Homo sapiens: one gene and its partners. The protein of the gene in region 3 purifies or fractionates together with the protein of the main gene of each other region. This does not show direct contact. Each region holds a gene or a part of one and is shown on either strand. Other genes may lie near its edges.

Region 1 (3,653 bases), on a different chromosome or scaffold from region 3:
CCAAAGTCAACAAAAGATGTCAACTTTCTGCACCTTAGTCTAGTTAACCTCTCCCTGTTGCCTTCCCATCCCCATACAAATTTCTCAACCCATACTCATTGTTTCTATGTTGTTGCCAACCACTCACCTCCAAACTTTCTGTATTCTGGTTCCTACCTTCACCACTATAATTGTTCTCATCCTGATGCTAAATCCGATGGAAACTCCCAGGTTCTTCTCTTATCTTCTCTGGCATCTGGCCCTCCTTGCAGAACCTGCCCTCCTTTGTCTTCTGTGCCACCATTATCTTCCTATTCTACTCTGACCTACCTGCAGTGTTTCTTCTTCCTCTGCCTACCCTGCTGGTTTCTTTGGGATTTCATCTGAGTGTTTAAGGGTATTTTGTCCTTGATCCTATCTTCTTTTCCCACTATCATGCCTTCCTTTGGCAATCTCATATTCACTGACTGTAACTTCTTCCCACACACATTGATGCATATCTTCAACCCTAACCTCTCCTTTAAGTAGCAAATTGACATATACTCTGGTAAGTAGCAAATTGACATTTCGGATAAGCATCTCTACCTGCATATCTGAAAGTTACCTTTAAATAACATGTCAAAAATGGAACTAATTACCTATCATCATCCTACAAACCTGCTCCCCTCTCATATCCCTATTTACATTGGTGGTATCACAATTTACCCAGACATCTAGGCTGGAAACCTAAATGTATTTTCCACTACTCTTTGGCCCTTATGGCTATATTCAATATATCTAAATCAGTCTTCAAGTCTTATTGATTTTATATCTCACAAATCTTTCTAATCTGTCTCTCATCTCCATTCTCACCTATAATCACACTTTAGCTCTGGCCTTTAGCATCTCTTGTCTTGACTTTTACAAAAGCACCCTACTACACTAGTTCTGGTCTCTTGTCTCATCCCCTCCTACCCATTTTGTATAATGCTACCAGAATGGTTTTTAAAAATAAATCTGACCACGTCATTTCTTTCCCTAAACCCTTCAATGTTCACACTGCCTAAAGGATAAAAGTCCAAGATCCTCTCTAACTTGAACCCTTCCCTATTCTCTGGCTTTGGCTCCTACACCCCCAGCTTGTATTTTACCAGCAATATTTAACTACCTGAAGCTCCCTACACATATACTGCTTTATGTGACTAAGCCCCTGCAAATGTTATTCACCCTCAGAATCTGTCTACATGGACAACTCTTATCCATCCTTGAAAATTACTAATCATTGGCTGGGTGCGGTGGCTCACACCTGTAATCTCAGCACTTTGGGAGGCTGAGGCAGGTGGATCACTTGAGGCCAGGAGTTTGGGACCAACCTGGCCAACATGGAGAAACCCCCATCTCTACTAAAAATACAAAAATTAGCCGGGCATGGTGGTGGGTGACTGTAATCCCAGCTACTTAGGAGGCTGAGGCACAGGAATCACTTGAACTCAGGAGGCAGAAGTTGCAGTGAGCCAAGATCATGCCACTGCACTCCAGCCTGGGTGAGAGCAAGACTCTGTCTCCAAAAAAAAAAAAAAAAGGAAATTATTAATCATCACCCTTTCAACAGACTGAGTCACTCTTCAGTGTCCTTTCTAAACCTTACATATTCACCTGTATTAGAATATGTATCCAGTGGACTCTATTTGAAACTTCACTGAGAGTGGAAAATATGCTTCATTTCTTTGCATACCAAATACCTAGCTTAATGCTCAACACATTCAATAAACTAGAGTTCCTAGAGACTTACTCTGAAGAAACCACTAGAGAAATATGAATAGCATGACTCTGATTTCAGGGTAGTAAAAATGCTAAGTAGTGATGAGCCTCTTTTATCTCTAGAAAGTCTCAGCTTCTGACACCCAAGAACCACATACTCTCTCTCCACAAGCTTAAATCTGGCTCCCTAAATTTATTTTAGCTTTTCCTGGGCATATTTCAGAAAGACATTTTTGGAAGGGGGCATTCCATCCAAGGCTCTGCCTGTCCATCCATATATTTCCACCTCTCTCTCCTTCCTTCACATGTCCATGACCAGAAAAGACCAAAGTTCTTACTTTTTCAACTGAAGACCCAGCCCAAATCCTTCCTTATTTGATGGCTGGAAAACCTCAATGGATGGTTCTGCAAAGAGAAGAGAAGGCTACTAGTAAGTACATATCTCTTGTCTTCCTGGAGTCCAAAGCTCAGTGGAATAGCTTCCATACATTCTAAAGATCATAGCTGCTGGGTACTCTAAACAGTAACGGTGGAAGAAAAAAAACATCTGAGGGAGAGGGCAGATTCTCGAAGCTGTCATATGAATCTGAAATATCCTCAGGAGGATGTTGAGAAAAGGAGGAGAAAGAAATTTTATCTTGGAACCAGAGAAAACAATGTCATTAGGCAAGAAGGCCTTTAGGGAATGGTTATTAGGTGACAGGGGATGAAGATACCAATTACAGGGGACTAAAAAGCCCCTACCAATAGCCTGCAGATTGAGCCCAAGGACCTTGTTCCTAATTTTTTTCTACCTCAGTTAACTTAGGGCTTTGGATTAGACCACACTCAGACCACCCACTTGCCCAAAGTCACTGCCTTTACCTGGTCCATCTAGGTACTGGGAGAGAGAAAATCGCAGCCTCAACACAATAGGTTCTGTCCGGAGGACCTTCCAGGCTGTAGAGACTTCCTCCTAAAAGAAGAAGGGAAATAGTTTCCAGTTTAGCAACATAGACGAATGGACCTGAAATTTCCCCTATATGACACACACATGCACATGACAGTACACACCACTGTCTGCTGATGGTCTAGGAAAGACAGAGATGAAGAATATGTGCTCCAAATACAGCACTCGGGAACAAGACTCCTGGCCTACATGACAAATTCCACAAGTCCAGCTAGACATGTTGTTGGCAGGTACTAGCCCCACTTACATCGAGGAAGCTGATGTTGATGTGGAGGTCAATGTCCACGTCATCGATAGTTCCATATTCTCTATAGAGATACAGGTGACAACAGGTGAGACTCATTAAGGGAGAAAGAAGGGAATAGAAACTGAGTTGGAAAGAGAACTGAGCCTGGGGACAGGGGAAAGGGAAGAGTGGATGACAGTTTTGTACCTAGGGTCTTAGCTATAGCCTTACACCACTTACCTGATCAGGATCTACTTCCAGGCCAAAAGCATTTCTTACCTGAAAGGTGAAACTACTGGCCCAGAGGGGTCTAGGATAAGAGGGAATTCCTAAGAAAAGTGGCCTTACTCTCTACTCTCAGCCAAGCTCATTTATTCTGAGCATTTTCTATCATTAAGTTCATAATTTATCCCACTATCATACCATAAAAAGAAAAACCTCTAGCCTTTTAACAACTCAGAAAGAAGTGACTTGCTCCCCTGCCACCCCTGAAGTAGAGTCCCACCTGATGGATACAGAGTTCTCACTGTAGATCTCCTTCACGGCTTCAATGTCTGCATCAAGCTGTGGGTGTCGATACAGGTCAGCTGCACAGCTCCCCTGAGATAGCAGCAAAAATGGTGGTGGAGAGAGGTGGAAAAAGACGAGGGAAAGAGAGAGATAATAAAAAGAATATGAAAAGACACCAGGAACAGGAGAAATCAGACAGCAGTATAGGGGAAGTAAAAGCCACTTATGTGAAGGGGTTCTCAGTGGTGA
Region 2 (3,653 bases), on a different chromosome or scaffold from region 3:
TCTTGGGGATCACTGCCACGTACACACATGGCGTCACCACAAAGATTGTCTCCTCAGCGTTCAGTCACTTCCCCACTACTGGTCACTTGATGAGAATTTGGGCAGTGATTTGGTGAAGTCTGGGAACTGGGAGACTCCCACATATCACATACCAGGTAAGGTGATAACATGCTCCCAGTGCCCGCCCCTCATCTGCAAGGGCAGGGTGGCCAAGAGAAGGCCGCTGCCCCATAACCAGCCTCTGAATAGAGGGCTAAGCACAAGTCTTGGCAGCAAAGAGATCTTTCCGAAGATTTTAAGAGAGGCACACAGGCACCTGTCCGGTTGTCTTTATTTATTTATTTACTTCTGAAGACAGAGTCTCACTCTGTTATGCAGGCTAGAGTGCGGTGGCACCATCTCAGCTCACTGCAACCTCCACCACCTGGATTCAAGCAATTCTCCTGCCTCAGCCTCCCAAGTAGCTGGGATTACAGGCTCAAAATTACCATGCCCAGTTAATTCTGTATTTTTAGTAAAGACGGGGTTTCACCATGTTAGCCAGGTTGGTCTTGAACTCCTGGCCTCAAGTGATCCTCCCACCTCAGCCTCCCAAAGTGCTGGCCATCCTGTTGCCTTTAACATGAGCCTCTGGGTTCCCCAACTCCCAGGATGAGACAGCCCTTTCTGTTTCTAAGACGCTAGTCATAGGACACTATATCAGCCTCCAGAATAGAACTAAAATTACTTCTATAGTCCAGTTTTCCTTTAATCTAAGCCAACACCTTCCATATCTAGCCAGTTATCTTTGAAATGTATACTTTTTTTAACCAATGAGGTTTTGGCCAAACAATTAACATCTTGATAAAATATACATATATTTAGAGTAAAAGTTCACATATTCTAAAACAGTAGAAACTTATCTTTACTATTTTCTCTACTGACTACTGATACAACCACATAACCATAGAAGGGAAGTGCAAAGGTTTATAAAGAAAGAAGCTCATGAATTCCAATTCTAAAAAACTGCCTAGAAGCTGACATTGAGTTTCATTCTGCTATTTGATTCTTTCCTATTTTTTTTCAAACCACTAAACAAGCCACTTATTAATACAGTTTCTCCTAATGCCCTAGTACACTACATAATATAACTTTCACAGGATGAAGTCATGTCATTTCCTAGCAGACAGATCTTCGGCAAAACCCCAGGGATGAATCACTCACTGGCCAACCAAACCCACCAGAATCTCCCTACACAGAAGACTCGACTGAGGAAACTAGGAAGGAGCCTGGAGGAGAGGAGGACTCACTCCCTCTGCCACCCCCTTGCTGCCACATACCTACATTAAGGAACAGGCAGGCAGTGTTTGCGCCTCTGACCCCCAAAATGCTAACAGACTTAAGAGCTGGAATCCGTGGGCCCCAAAGAGAGATGCCTGCTCCCCAGGGGGACACAATGATCTACTGGGTGCAAGAAGAAAGTAACAGAGCTTCTATTTGTATTTATTTTTTATAAAGAAATTACAAAGTTAGTTTTTGATATTTGGAATATAGAGGAACACTAGCACATATAAATAACAAATAAACAAACATACATACATGTTGCGGGTGCTTGACTCCCATTAACAGAAGCACACAAACAAAAAAATTTAAAGGCCACTAGCTTGTCCATTTATAACAGCCAGCTTCAAATGCCTGCCTTTGTGTGTGTGTGTGTGTGTGTGTGTGTGTGTGTGTGTGTGTGTGAGAGAGAGAGAGAGAGAGAGAGAGAGAGAGAAAGGGAAAGAGAAATCAACTGCAGCAACAGGCAACAATCTGTAGCTTTGGTGTTTTTATATTTATGAAATGATTTTTGAGAAATAGAAACTTAATCCAATGCCAAGACAAAAATGTTCCTTGTTCCTCCCTAAGACAAAGAACACATGTGTGTGTATGTGGAGGGTGTGTGGCATACACCTGAGTGCACACACCCCTCAGTCAGCTGGCTGCCTGGATCTCAAGGTCATGGTCTAGTCCTCTGTTTCCTGCTGTGAGTCTGAGGACTATTTTCTTTCCTCATTATTTCCTACAACAAACAAGAAGCATCAGGTATTTTGTTTCATCTTCTCTTTCTCACTTGGCCCTTCCTTATCTTCTGTTCTCCAAGTTCAAAATTCAGGAAGCAAAGACTTTGTACAGTCCCTAAAACCGTGTTTCTAAAGACTATTTTAATGACAGGAAAGTACACACGGCAGAAAATTAAATGAAAACACAGAGTATATACACACATTATTCAATAAACATTGATCTATATGCTTTCCACATAGTAATGCTTTAATTCTCACCACTTTATATGTTACTTACTGTGATTAACCCATTTTACAGATGAGGAAACTAAAGCACTCAAGTGAAGCGACTAGCCCAAGCAAGTTCCAGACCTGTTCGCTTGTCCTGAATGCTGCTCTTCTCCAGAGCTAAGCTTCCAGAAGCAAATCCAAGATCCTCAGAGAGAGCCTCAGGGGAAAGCTTTCTGGCTTCTGTTGCCAATGACTCCTTGCCTTTATCTCACTCTGAATCATGAGGCAGCAAATAGTAGAAGGCCCCCAGTACAGGAGTGAAATGCACAGCAATGTGATCTGCAGCAAATCAACTGTCCTCTCTAGCCCTCAGTTTCCCCTCAGTAAAATAAGTATCCTGAACCAGCGTCCTCCAAAATTGAATGCACATTGGTACGTATGTATAGGCATGCCATTTTTTTTTTTCTCAGTTTTCCTTGGATTCTCAAAAGGGTCCATGACTGCATAAAAGGATTAAGATCCAGGAGTCCTGAGGACCTCTAGGATCCCTGCCCAGATCAGGCCAACTAAGTTTGGGCTAGCCATGCCTGTACCCACCCATCTTCATAAGTGTCCAGTTGCTGTCCATTTGCTTGGCAGCCTGGAGAAAGTAGCGCCCGTCAGTCCACATGGCTGCATGCTCTTCTGTGATGATGGCTGTGCCTGAAGCAGGGGAGAAAAAAAAAAGAAGAAGAAAGGTTTCTAACAACTGCTCAGAAGCTGCACAAAATGACAGTAGACAGGCAAGAGCAGTAAGAGGCATCAGCTCCTAGTGGGGCAGATGGGTCCTTGACTCCAAAGAAACCTCTGGGCAAGAGAAGACCACACTACTGAAAACAAGCTGTGTGTCAAGCTCTGAAAGAACAGTCCTGAGACCCAAGCTACCTGGCACTGGTCCCTGCACAAAAAGGACTCCACTTGCACAGTATGAGTCAAGAACAGAGAATGGAGAACTGTAGACCTATGGCCAAAGTGGTCTCGTATAATCAACAAGACACAGGGAGGGATGGTTCCTGCTCAGCAATTACAGCCACTCCTCTGCTCCACCAGACACCCCAGGGGAGCTGTTTCACCTTTCCTGGAGAAAGACCAAGTGGGCCCTATGAGTGTTCCTGCTGTGGTCACTAGCAGGAAGCTTATGCCTCCTACCTTTATCTGCCCTCCGTTCCCACAGGCCTGGCAGAACTTGGGGTTTTGGCAGAGGTGTCAGCCAAAGCCAATCCTAATGCGCCAACCAACACAAGCACTTACGCCAAAGGAAGCAGCATGCTAACCATGAGGGGAGGGGAGCTCCCACCTTGTCCAGCTTGCTTTAGAGAACAAACCTGAAGTGGGGAGTCCACCCTAAAACTCAAAGGC
Region 3 (3,653 bases):
TTATTTTTCTTCTAATTGTTCCAAAAGCCAAATATGGTGAATTTTTTCTACTAGGTACAATAAAATACTTACCAGGTTCATTAAGATGTTCCCTCCCAGGAAGCTGCTCAGCATTGATGTCCCCTAAATCGCCAGTTTTAGAATCAATGGTTGCGTGAGACAGTTCTTTTTCAAAAGCCTTGATTTCTTCAGCACTTGCTGTTCGATCTTCTGATTCTGTAAACACTCTAATAATGCCATCACTGTAAGGAAAAATAAACTGATTTTAGAAGTCATTGCCATAATACATTAACATTATCACACCTGAATGATCCATAGTAAAAATAATCTGTGTTTGTGAATATGAGAAATATTAGCATGTTATTAATTGCTGATTACAGCACTGTGCTGACTTCAGCACATGCTACTCTATTATGTCAACTATTTAATAGAGAAGTTATTGACAAAGAACAGAGAAACATGTATTTTATACAATTTCCAAGTTAAATATTTACCATCATAAGAATCTAGAGCTATAGTATGTACTTTTAAAGTCAATATTTTTTAGTTATTACCATATAGAGAAGGGTAGTGGGCTAGTTTAGTTTATAAAGGGCTCAAAGACCCAATGTAGGGCTTAAAATTAGCAGATGTTCAGTAGACAAATATGGTCATCCTTTACTATGCCAGTAACTAGCAATGTAACTTCAATCAAGGAAAAAAAATGGCCTAATGTTTGGATTAGATGGCCGTCCTTAACCTCTTTTCTCAGAAAAATTACTTTATCTCCATGATTTCTTAATTCGAAATTCTGAGATAGGAGAAGCAAATTAGACACTTCCAACTGTATTAATCCTGGCCCATTCTACAGGAAACCTGTTTCTAACTTATTCGTCCACAAACATGTACATCACTCGTTCTATTGGTTTTTCTTCATATGCTTAGGAGGGAAAAAAACTAAGCCTATAAATCAGCCTCTGTCCCAGCCAAAAAATAAAACACCCACTTTATTAGACCCTCTATCCCTTATAGCTGTCACCTTCTTTTTCTTCTCTTTTTCTTTGAGACAGGGTCCAACTCTGTCACCTAGGCTGGAGTGCAGGGGCGGCAATCACAGCTCACTGCAACCTCAAATTCCCGGGCCCAAGCAATCCTCCCACCTCAGTCTCCTGAGCAGCTGGGACTACAAATGCATGCCACCATGCCCAGCTAATTAAATATTTTTTTTGTATGGAGACAGGGTCTCGGTAGCTCACCCAGGATAGTCTCGAACTCCTGAGCTCAAGCGATCCTCCCACCTGGACCTACCAAAGTGCTGGGATTACAAGTGTGAGCCACAGCAGCTGGCCTTCTTATTGCTTTCAATGCTAGAGTAGCATTATAGAGTAGTCTATGATCCTTCGTCCATCTCCTCCAACCCTTTATTTCCTCTTATTTGCCTTTTTTTCTATCATTTTCTATTCAAAATGTGATTGATGCCAAAAGTCACTAATAACATCTTTCAAACCAAATCCAAATGCTTTTCAAACTTTCCATTCTTTGACTCCTCAAACACTTTTGACACTGATGACAATCTCCCTCCAAAATCTCTCCTTTTCTGTCTCCCAGAAATTTCAACATTTGAATTCCTTTGTTCTGTTTAACCTACTAACTTCTTTTTCTCTACTAATGGTATATCATAAAACTTAGTTCTTAGTCTTCTGTTCCTCCCCTGTATTTCTTCCCTCAGAGAATGGTGTTCTATGCTTTGCTTTTGGAAGCTTTGCGAAATCTTTATCTTAGCCTCAGTTCTTATACTAAGCTCCAGTTCAAATGACCATGATCCACTGGCATGAGTGTGGCTCACCACCACTGCAGACCTCAGGAAGTCTAAGGCCACGGTCATCACCTTCTGTACCCAACCAATTCTCCCACTTCTCCATTTTTATTAATGAAGATTTCCAATCACTAACAGTTTGAAGCTTTATCCTTTTCTTTCATACTTTTTCTGATTGTTTTCCTTCTGGATTATCTCATTTACTTATTTCCTACCCATTAGCATTGTGGGGCCAATGTCTTATAACTTCACACTCCTTCTGTACTTGCTTTCTAATTTACTTTCCTGTCCATTGTCACCAGCAGTTAAATCCAATCTACATATTTAGTAATTCATAAGTTCTGCTTCAATCCTATTTCTTGCTCAAGAACTACAACCCTTCAACCCCAGGCAATGAATCTAAAAAATGCCTGGCATGAAAGCACTAAAGGTTCTCCACAGTTAAGCCCCATTGTACCTATTATCTCAGCATTAGTACTCCACCATTTTCCTTCACTTCCTATGCATGCTGCATTCATTCTCATGAAGGAAACTTATACTCTTAGCTTTGACAAAAATTTGCGTATCTTTTCTCACTCATAATCTTTCAAAATCCAGTTCAAATTTCTTCTTCTACAGAAAGTTTTCCCACACCAATCTCTACCTTCTCTAACTTCTTTTGTAGTCAATATCTTGACTGCACAATTGCAGTACAATACTGGTATATCATGCATCATTGACTGCACAATTGCAGTACAATACTGGTATATCATGCATCCCTTAGTATGAAAGCTATAATATCTACTACTGTTTTGTTTAGTAATTGAAGTGTCCATATAGTCTCCTCAAGTCACGTGAAATTCCTTATGGCTTATCTCTGTACACTCTAGTTCCTACTGAAGGCCTAGACATATAACATTTAATGATTGACTAGAATATAAATACCTCGCACCAACCACAATGTCACCATTGTCGAGCACACAGCAGCACCATATAGACTGAGCTGGAAGTCGGATAGTTTGAGCACATTCCCCATGTTTCCAGATTCTCAGAGATCTGTCCTCTGCTGTTGTCACAAAGTCTAAAATTAATGAATATAGGAAGTATTAGTTTGAATAAAATTAAGTACATTTATACATACCATCTTTCTAGATACACTGACTTTTTGAAACCCAGAGACTTTCAAAATTACAGTTTTAAATTTCATATGTTTGTCACTTACAACATATACAACTTCAAAATCACATTTTTTATTCATGTCACATCTTACAAAGTGTTTCTTCAGATACCCAAGAACTTTTTACAGCACAACATAAATCTGAATTAATATAAAGATGGCCATACAATTTTCTTCTTTGTAAACAGGAGAAAGATACTTAATGAAATAAATTTACTAAATTATTCAAGTCATAGATAGTAAATTAAGTAATCAGCTCTCCTCCCTCCATCTCACAAATGGGATGGAATAATGCTCAATACAAAACATTAAATAAATAGCATAAAATAATCTTACCTCTACAATTTGGAAAAACGGATATGCTATAAATATAATTTGTATGTCCATAATATACTTCAAGACACTCGCCAGTGATTTGCCACCTTCTAATACTAGCATCATTTGCACAGGAAAGAAATTCTGTTTCACTCAAAATTGCCAAACCTCTTACACAGTCTTCATGCCCTGCATTAAAAAACAATAATGCAAATCAATAAAACTGATAATTTGGCTGATGGCTCTATACATTTTACTAACATTATAAAACATATCAGTGAGTAGTAAAAATTAATTTTCAAGTTAGAGAAATCTTTTTTTTTGTTGAAAGCCTGATAACCAAAATTTGTATTTAAGGTTTAGCAATATTTTTTTATCACCAGTCTT

What was found.
Region 1: the proteins of PLAA (region 3) and PARP6 fractionate together in Homo sapiens (co-fractionation; one large-scale study listed by BioGRID). This does not show direct contact.
Region 2: the proteins of PLAA (region 3) and XPNPEP1 fractionate together in Homo sapiens (co-fractionation; one large-scale study listed by BioGRID). This does not show direct contact.

Annotation. Positions count from the first base shown.
Region 1 is NC_000015.10:72,262,498-72,266,150, forward strand, and holds part of PARP6 (protein mono-ADP-ribosyltransferase PARP6), read right to left. Parts: intron 3,495-3,653; coding exon 3,400-3,494; intron 2,977-3,399; coding exon 2,916-2,976; exon of another isoform or gene 2,773-2,915; intron 2,675-2,772; coding exon 2,584-2,674; intron 2,125-2,583; coding exon 2,058-2,124; intron 1-2,057. UniProt on the Homo sapiens protein: Mono-ADP-ribosyltransferase that mediates mono-ADP-ribosylation of target proteins.
Region 2 is NC_000010.11:109,888,870-109,892,522, forward strand, and holds part of XPNPEP1 (xaa-Pro aminopeptidase 1), read right to left. Parts: intron 2,958-3,653; coding exon 2,853-2,957; intron 1-2,852. UniProt on the Homo sapiens protein: Metalloaminopeptidase that catalyzes the removal of a penultimate prolyl residue from the N-termini of peptides, such as Arg-Pro-Pro. Contributes to the degradation of bradykinin.
Region 3 is NC_000009.12:26,923,106-26,926,758, forward strand, and holds part of PLAA (phospholipase A-2-activating protein), read right to left. Parts: intron 3,456-3,653; coding exon 3,288-3,455; intron 2,856-3,287; coding exon 2,720-2,855; intron 243-2,719; coding exon 73-242; intron 1-72. UniProt on the Homo sapiens protein: Plays a role in protein ubiquitination, sorting and degradation through its association with VCP. Involved in ubiquitin-mediated membrane proteins trafficking to late endosomes in an ESCRT-dependent manner, and hence plays a role in synaptic vesicle recycling.